Regions from separate parts of the Homo sapiens genome. Here region 1 is linked to region 2. Evidence: fine-mapped expression QTL. A gene starts in region 2. The other region holds a variant in brackets. All regions are shown on one strand. Distances are from middle to middle. Region 1 has its middle 58 kb from the start of LINC01852. Region 2 holds the start of SPRED1 (sprouty related EVH1 domain containing 1).

Evidence for each region.
Region 1: its variant is fine-mapped to the expression of SPRED1 in whole blood (TOPMed, PIP above 0.99). The same link has a PIP of 0.9 or more in monocytes after R848.

What each region holds. Positions count from the first base shown.
Region 1 is chr15:38,128,892-38,133,280 of GRCh38, forward strand. No RefSeq gene overlaps it. Among named protein-coding and RNA genes, the nearest start is that of LINC01852, 58 kb to the left of the region's middle. RefSeq lists enhancers at 1,121-1,170, 1,301-1,430. The variant T/C (reference allele first, on the strand shown) is at 2,394.
Region 2 is chr15:38,250,450-38,254,838 of GRCh38, forward strand. SPRED1 (sprouty related EVH1 domain containing 1) reads left to right here and starts at 2,387. Exons shown (of 7, transcript NM_152594.3): 1 at 2,387-2,768. The coding sequence starts at 2,737. RefSeq lists silencers at 799-1,093, 857-906, 1,737-2,036, 2,047-2,096, 2,197-2,296 and 2 more.

The DNA.
Region 1 (4,389 bases), 120 kb before region 2:
TTCATTTGTCTAAAATAACAAAGGACTAAGATATAATTTCAAATGATTGTGAATAACTTTCTCAGAATTAGCCATTTTCAAAGATTTTGTAAATAAAATAAAATAACACATGGTACTAAAATCATGCTTGAACATAACTTGATTTTTCAAAGATGTGTGCTCTGCTTTATGATCGTCTCCAGAAAGAGCAGTCCTGGTTTAATAGGATCAGAATGTGTAGCCTATGGAGCCAGAATTAAATGGTTCAAAGCGTCCTTCCAAAGTTGCTTTTTAAATAAATCCTTGCTTATTTGTTTATTTTTAGCTTGCCATTTGTCACAAGTTGAGGGGGAAAACAAATTCCACTTATTTAAGATTTTTATTTTTTTCTGATTTTGTTTACATTGCTCATCCTGGCCTTTAAAAAATATCTTTTAAATTTTATCTGGCTCATTTTGACCTATTTATATCATGTGCTTATCCCCCATTTATAGCTGTGTTAATAGGCATAGACAAGCCAGTAGTATCTCCTTTGTAAAATAGCAAAAATAACTGCTTTTTTTTTTAGTCCAACCAGCTCACACTATTAGACATATAGAGCACATTTGAGTCAAAGTCCTCTTCCTCAGAAACCCTGTTGTTACCATGGGAAAACTGTAAAAATGCTCAAATGTGGGCATGTTATAATTAGAACCAAACGTGGGCTTTATGGGACCTGTCATGATGTTTCTAGGAAGCTAGTTCTGCGTTGGCTTCATAAGACATCCTTTTCCTACAGTCATGACTCACTCCTCCTTCTCCTCACTCACCCCCACTTGTTCTGGGGTGGAAGAATGCCCAAATGCTCCAGAGACAGATGCGTAGGCGGATGTCCAGTCCACTAACGAGAACACACTTCTAGGCATTGTGGAAGTGGGACAAAGGGTTTTGCTGGGCATATTCAGAGCCAACAATGTGATGGTTATATGTTTATCACACATGGAGAGACTCATTTCTTTGGCAACCAACCCTAGCCTACTCACTAATCCACCCAACCCCTCCCATCCCTCCCTCCTTTCTTCCTTTCAGGAAAGCGTGTGCAAGTTCTCCGCAAAATGATGAATCTCTGCTCCTCAGGGGAATGTACGAATCAGAAAAGCTTTTAAAAAGGAAAGAGGAACCAAAGCCTTTGCATAAGTAGGCCAGCTGCAGAGCCTTAAGAGAGAAGGGAGGGGAGAAATCTCCTTGCGGCCATGGCCCCAAACCTCCCGGCTGCCACTTGTCTCCATTGTCTTCCCACAACCCCAAACAAGTCAGCCCACACCTCCGTGACTGCACCCGCTGTCATTTTCAGGAAAAGAGATTTTCTGAGCCCATCTTGGCATTTCTGTGAAATCACAGAAATAATTCATTGAATCACAGAACTGAAAGAGATGATCTAATCACTTTTATTTTTAAGATGATGAGAATGCCACCAGGGGAGTTTCACTGACCTGTCCATGCTCGCACAGATCTGGAAACACAGAGCCAGAACTAGAGTCCGGATCTCCTTGTCCTACTCTTTCGTCTTTCTCACATGGGCTTGTAAAAGCAAATCGTTCTGTAGATACACTCTTTTCGCCTCAGTTCCCTGGCTAGGTTTCCTTTAAAGCTTGCTTCTTCTTCGCCTGGTGTGACGTATAACGGGCATACAGATGAGCTGAGGCTGATTATAAAGACTCATCTGTAGTAACTGTTAAAAATGGAGATTCCCAGGCCTTTCCCTGGGAGATTCTGGAATAAGGCTAAGGAATTGTTTAACCAGTTTCCTGCATGTGTTTTATGATAAAGCCAGTTGAGGGAATAATGTAGTAGAGGGACGCTGGAAAAAAAAAAAAAAAAAAAAGTATGTTTGACAGGCAGCGTGTCCCAATAAGAATAGAACAAGGGCATGGAGAGGACCAGGAATTTTGCCTTCTAGCTGCTTTTTCAGTGGGTTAACCACTAGACCACACTTCCTCTCTAGGAGAGGCAAGGGATTAAAATCAAAGGTTTGCCACTGATTCATGCTGCCTGCTAATGCTGCTTATTGCGCCATGCTGTGACCCTAAGCTCTCTGGCTTGGAAACAGATGTGGGGAGTGAGAGGCCTGAGGTACTGGGGGATGGAGGAGGCGGGGGAAGGCAGACGGCCAGGGAAAGAACTTCCTCTGCTGCAAAATTTCAGGCAGGAGTGGAAGTCAGTCTAAATTGTTACCATGCAGATCTGGAATCATTTTTGCAATCTCCTGGCTCCAATTCCAGGTTTGTGCATTCTGCAACAAGAACTGAAAACTTGTTAATTAATGCTCCTCGCCTGACTTTTGCCTCTGCCCTCGTCTGAATACATATTAATATTACACGTTTAGCTTGACAGTCATTTCATTAGGCAAGAGAGTTTGGTTACCCTCCTACTCT[T/C]GCCCCATTCTCTCCCCCGTGCACACTTTAAAAGGAAGTACAGAAGAGTTAAGCAATTTGACCAAGGTTACGCTGATCTCAATATTGTAGTAGTTTGAGTAAAAGTGTAACCGAGACATTTTCAACTAAGCTTTTCAGACTGCCTTCAATATATTCTTATCATTAGGCAACTGAAAAAATGTTTTGGATTTATTTTCTCCTATGTGATGAGTACATGACATGTCCTTGGGCCTGTAGTTTACCACGTCAATGTTTATCAAAAACATGTAGGCTTTGAGTGTTAAATATCAATTCTAGAAATAGTTTTTGTACCTTCTCTGCTCATCTGGAAGTTCCATGAAGGCAGGGTGGGAATTTCAGCCTTGGTTGTCACTAGATACTGCACATGCGGTAGTGCTTAATGGCCAGGGGGTATAAGAGCTGGATTTTAGGTCTGTAGGAACTAGAGTTCTCAGATTTAACAAAGAAAAAAGCAGGATGGCCAGTTTAATTTGAATTTTGGGTTTTAAAAATGTTAATATGAGCAAGTCTCATGCAATGTTTGGTAGATACTCATATTCAACAATCATTGGGTTGAAAAAATATGATAAGTTTAGTGTAGCTGGAGCATCTAGTCTGTGTGTATTTAGCAAGGGGGCAGGGTTGATCAACATCAAGAGGTAAGGTTTGAAGTTTTTATTGGGGGAGCCTTGTGAAGTGCCTTTATGCCATGCATATGTTGGTGGAGAGAGGAGCCAGCAAGAATTTTTCAGCTGAGTGGTATGATCATTGCTGTTTTTGAAAGATAATTCTGTGGCAGATTGGAGTGGGTAGAAATTGTAGGCAGGGGGACCAATTAGGAGGTTATTGAAATAGCCTGGGCAAGGAAGGATGAACTTATTTCAACTAAGGCAGTGGTGGTGGAAATAGTGAGAGAAATTACAGGGACATGTAGGTGATAGAATCAACAAACCTTGTTGATTGATTGCCTAAGGACAGTAACATAGAGGATGGAGTTAACATAGTGTAAATCTCCAGACAAACAATAGGCATTGTTTTTAATCTAATTGTCTATCTGTAGAATGGGCTGACAATACTGACTCTACTTACTTCATTAGGCTATTGTGAAGACCAATTAAGATCATTTACGTGAAAGTGTTTTTTGACTATAAAGTGCTATAAAATACACCGTTGTTAAGAGTATATGCATCTATCTCAGTAGACACTGAACTCTTTCAGGACAAAGATTACATTTTGTTCATCTTTGGTACCCCCAGCACCTAGCACACTGCCTTGAATGTATAGATCACCAACACATTTGGAGCATCAAACCAAATTTGAAATTCTACCCTGAAAAACCAAAGTAATAAACACAGTTTTTCAATGGATCTGGCTTGGTGAAACCTTCAACAAAATCAGGGCTACAAATTCCAGGAGAAATGCCCACTTAAGGAATGCTGATGCTGAAGACAATCTCTTTCTCTTTGTTCACAGACACACTAAACACTGACGGCCATCTTAGCTGCTCATCTAGCTTTCCCTCTTTGTATCCCTCCCATTATAAATTATTTAAAATCCTAAAGAAATAATCACTTATCAAGAGGTCAGGAGATCGAGACCATCCTGGCTAGCATGGTGAAATCCCATCTCTACTAAAAACACAAAAAAATTAGGTTAGCGTGGTGGCACACACCTGTAGTCCCAACTACTTGGGAGGCTGAGGCAGGAGAATCGCTTGAACTGTGTCTGAAAAAAAAAAAAAAATCACCTGACCTGTTTTAGATATCACCCTGGTAGTGTCTGGTAAGTCCCACTAGACTCTTGAGCTTAGCTTAGTTTAGGTGAGGAATACTCTGTCCTTTATCTCTGTATTTCTGTATCTACCACCAAGCCTACTCTGTGGTTGGTGCTCAATAATAATCTTATAAATAAAAAAAGATAATAATTTGCAAATTAAATACCACTCAAACTTTGAATATGTCCAAGTCTCTATTTTCAACCAAGCAAAAAACTTGTG
Region 2 (4,389 bases):
ACTTGACTGAAACTTGAGCAGCCTAACTGGTTAACAGTAGTCCTGGAAGGGGAAGAGGCCAGTATCAACACTCCCATGTATAAGTTCTTGGCAAGAATAAGTTCAAAAAGGCAGGTTTAGAGGTCATGTCTAGCACAGACCATCATCAACATTGCCCCTCTCTTTCTCAAGAGTAAGGACAATGCTGCTGCTGAGGCAGGAATCAAGTTACATAAAGAGACCTCAGAAATCAATGGGATGGTTTTTTGGGTACATTGACTGGTTTAGCGCCTCTGTTCATTCGTCAAACATTTATTAAGCACCTGCTACGTGCAAAACACTGTTAACAGTGCACTACTGTGCACGCTCATTCTCAGAACAACAATCCTGCGATTCCTGGAGAGGGATGGTAGAAGAGGAGTGCTGCCTTGTTAACGAGGTTCTCCCAACTTCTTTTTTTCCTCGGGAATTGTTCTCTTTAATGTGGCACCAGCGGCAACCTTCATTCTTAGGTCGCACAAATCTGAGAAGGAAGAGAAAAACATTGCACGCAGGGCGAGACTTATATCTGGGAAGATGCGTCAGGAACTTGGGAGCACTTGGGATTCAGTCCCCTAAGGTGGTTCATGTACAGGCTGGTTTTCTAAGTGGAGAACAGATAATAGAATTTGCAGAGCCAGGAGCTCTGACTCCTGTGGCTGGGCTGACCTTAGGCTCCAGCCCGCAACCCCAGTAGGTTTCTGTGCAAAAATCTTTTGAGATGAATGCATACTTTGTCTTCTAACAATGCATTCGTGACAGCTGTCTATCCAATCGGTCCGCCTCCGTTCAGAGCAGTTCGTGCCACAGAAGCATCTCCTGCGCTATAGTTATGCAACCTCACTCGCAGCGGGAGTTATTTCCTCCGTTCTGGCTGCGCCAGATTCATGTAACACGCCTACCCTGGGCTTCAATGGAAGTCGTTCTCCATTAACAATCACTCCAGCTTTCCGAGATGAATGCCCTGATAGCATACCCCTTGCGCAGTAAGAATCCAGGCAGCGAGGCGAGGTGTTAAAACACACATACATTCTCATATTCTCTCTCTCTCTCTCTCACACACACACACACACACACACACACACACATACACTTCGTGCATGCAGCTAGGGGACTGCAGCAGTGCAACCAGGGGGACAGCAGGAGGAGCTCTCTTTGCAGTCCCTGCTTCTAACCCCCACTAACTAAAGATGAACTCATGCCAGTTCCATTCTTTGCTCTGCAAAGAAAACACACACACACACACACACACACACACACACACACACACACACACGGCAGAAGAGAGTAGCCTCCAGATTTCCCCTCTGAGCACACTGTCTTTCTAGCCTCTTCGTTCAAGCAACCCGGATATTCCAAGCAGAGTAACGGGGAGTAACGCGCCACAACAATGCAACCTCCCTAGCAGCTCCCCTCGCAGCTCCCACCCCCGCCCCCTTTCGCGGCGTGCCAAGAGTTTGGAGCGCGCGCACGCACACCGAGCACGGTGCAGGGAGGATATCCCTCCGCCTCCCTCCCCCTTTCTCCGCTAAGTGGCTCGACAACGATTTGGGAAATGAAGGGAGGAGGGAACTACTTTCCTGAAACTTGCTATGCTGCACATGACTTCGAGTTGCAGTGATTCGCCCGGAGGCCGCGGCTTTTAGTCCTACCCACACACCCTCACAGCCTGGGCACCCCGCTCGGCAGCCCCACCCCGCGCCCGCTCTGGCCTCCGGGGAAAGCGGGCGGCCGGGAGAAGTCGCGAGGGACTACTTCGCCTCCTTCTCTCGCGGGCGCCCCCGGTTCGGGCAGCGGCTGCGGCGGCGGAAGGAGCGGGCGGCGTGAGCGCTTCCGCCGCCCCCCTCGCGGCTCCCCTCTCTCGGGCGTGAGGAGCTGGCCCGCTGAGCTGCTGGTGGGCACTGGCTGGCGGGGAACCTGCAGCCGCTCTTGTCCTCTCCCGCCGCTTCTCGGGATCCTGCCCCCCGGACCCGGGCCCGCCCGCTCTTCTCCGGCCGGGTGGGAACGATCGGTTTGCCTGCCCCTCGCCTCACACGCTCCCCGCCGCCCCCTCCACCCCCCTGAGGAGGAGTCCCGGCTGGAGCGTGTCTGGAGGAATCCGCCGCCGCGGGGCCCCTAGCCCTGCTCTGCCGGCGCCTGAGGACCGACCCAGACGCCGCCGGGGGTTGAGGGGCAGCCGGCGGCGAGGCGGGAGATGGTGGGGTGGGCTCCGGCAGGACCGCGCCGCCGCTGCCCGGAGCCTGGGCTCGGCACCCCCCCGCCGGCCCCCACCGAGCGGAGCTCTGCTTCCTCCTCGCCGCATCCCTGAGGGAAGCGCCGCCTCTGCTCCCGGGTTCTCCGCCCGCCGACTCCTTCCTGGCCGGACCCCGCTGCGCTCCACCCCAGTGGCTGGAGGAGCAGCTCTCCAGTCAGCCTTTGCAGCCCCTCTCTTTTTCCCTTTCCACCGGGCCTCCTCGGATCCCTTGGCTGGGCACTGAGGCGGGGGAAGAGGCTGGGGTCGCCACGGCGGAGGTTGCTGCCGCCACCCCCCTGCGGGGGTGGCCGGGGTTCCCGGCTGGGGGGGTACCGTTCTGGGTGAGGCATCCACCATGGTGAGGCCCCTGTGCCGCTGCCCCCGCGCCCCCCCGGCCGCCGCTGCCTCCTGCCCCTCGGTGCTGCTGTTGCTCCCCCGCCTGCTGTTGCTCCTCCATCTCCAGATCGGATCACGGTGAGGGAAAGATGAGCGAGGAGACGGCGACTTCTGACAACGAGTAAGCGCCTCATTGATCTCGATTGCTAATCCCCCTCCCCCTATCCGCCCTCGGCTCTCCCCCAGACCCATCCGAAACTTGGGTGCCGGAAAGCTTGCGACCCTGGAGAGTTCGGTGCATCTTCTGGAGATAGCTGATTTCTTTAGCCATTTTTAGTGGCAGCACCCCTCCCCATCCTCCCACATTTAGCTGCTTTCTTTTGGGGTAGGGGATTAAGTGTTGGGAGAGGATGGCAATTGTACGTCTATGAGAGGGAATAATGTGGATGGATGGAAGTGGAGTAGAAACTACCCCTTTGCCTGTGAGACCCCTGTCCCGTCCTTTTTCACTCACATACCAGTCACCATACCTTCAGTATCCATCCTACTTCCTTTATAGCTGTTTCACTTGGAAACTAATGTGTGGGAGCACCTCCTGCAGCAAACTGCTCTTGAATCTTAATTCGATGAGTCAGTGACTCTTAAATACCGATTAAGCCTTCACCCTCTCCCCCCTCCCCCTTTTAAACTTATGACCTGTAAGATTCTTGTAAAAAATAGGGTTAGGGAAACATTTTTAGAATTTAATAGGATTAAGGACACCTGGAGTGTGGGCGATGTTGAGCTAGAGTTTACCTTTGTGAATATTGGACGTGTCTTCAGGAACGGAGAAGAATTTTGAATGCTAATTTTTACCTTTCAGCTATGTGAAAACACATGATTTACGTTGATGTAACCGAATTTACATTGCTGAATATGTTGGTGATTTCATTAACTTTTAGAGCATTCCGGTTTAAGTTTTAGCTTATTTGGGCTTTCTCCTTGCTTTCCAAACGAAATACTTCGTCTTTTAAATGTTTTGCTTTAACGTGACAGCTGCGTGGAGAAATAATGGTTGGCAACACTTTTCTATTGAGAAGGGATTTAATTCCAAGCAGAATATTAGCATCCGTTTTCTTGTAATTAAGTTCAACTTTTGTTTATCTTCGGAGGGTTGGAAAGAGTTAAGTGAGTTAGGACTTAGTCATTTGGATGCATTCCTTTAAATACAGTGCATTACTAAAGTCAGACCTTTTTGAAATAACTTTTTAAAGTCTGTACCGAGTCCTGTTTAACGTAAAATAGCTAGAGAAAGGCCAAACAACATTTCCTCCTCCCTTACTCCCTCCCCACCCCAAAACACACGCTTCTGCTGAGCGGGTGTAGAAGGAGGTACATTGCTGCAGTGTCAGTGCAGTGTAGAAGCAGAAGTGGCAGCCATGTTCTGTCTCTTTTTGTGAATCGCCCTCATTTGCATAGCACACTCTTCATTCATAAAAAAAATAATTAAACATCCATCACCTTGGACATCTTGAAAGGATTTCCCAAGAAAAAAAATTCGCGGCTTATTTGTCTGTGTGTAGATTTTTGAGTTCAGAAGGTAAGAAGAATGTGAAATTTTAGGTTAAATTTAAAAACATACGCACACACAAACAACTACCCCTGTTCTGAGAATGTTGACACAGTTATGTGGGAAATATCAGTTCGGGGAGGTGCTGGGATCACGTGATCGCCTCCATTCATAAAATACCTGGCTGTCCATTCAGAGTGCAGTACAGTCTCTCCCTGCCTTCTGCAGATTAGACCTACTTTGAGGGAGATCA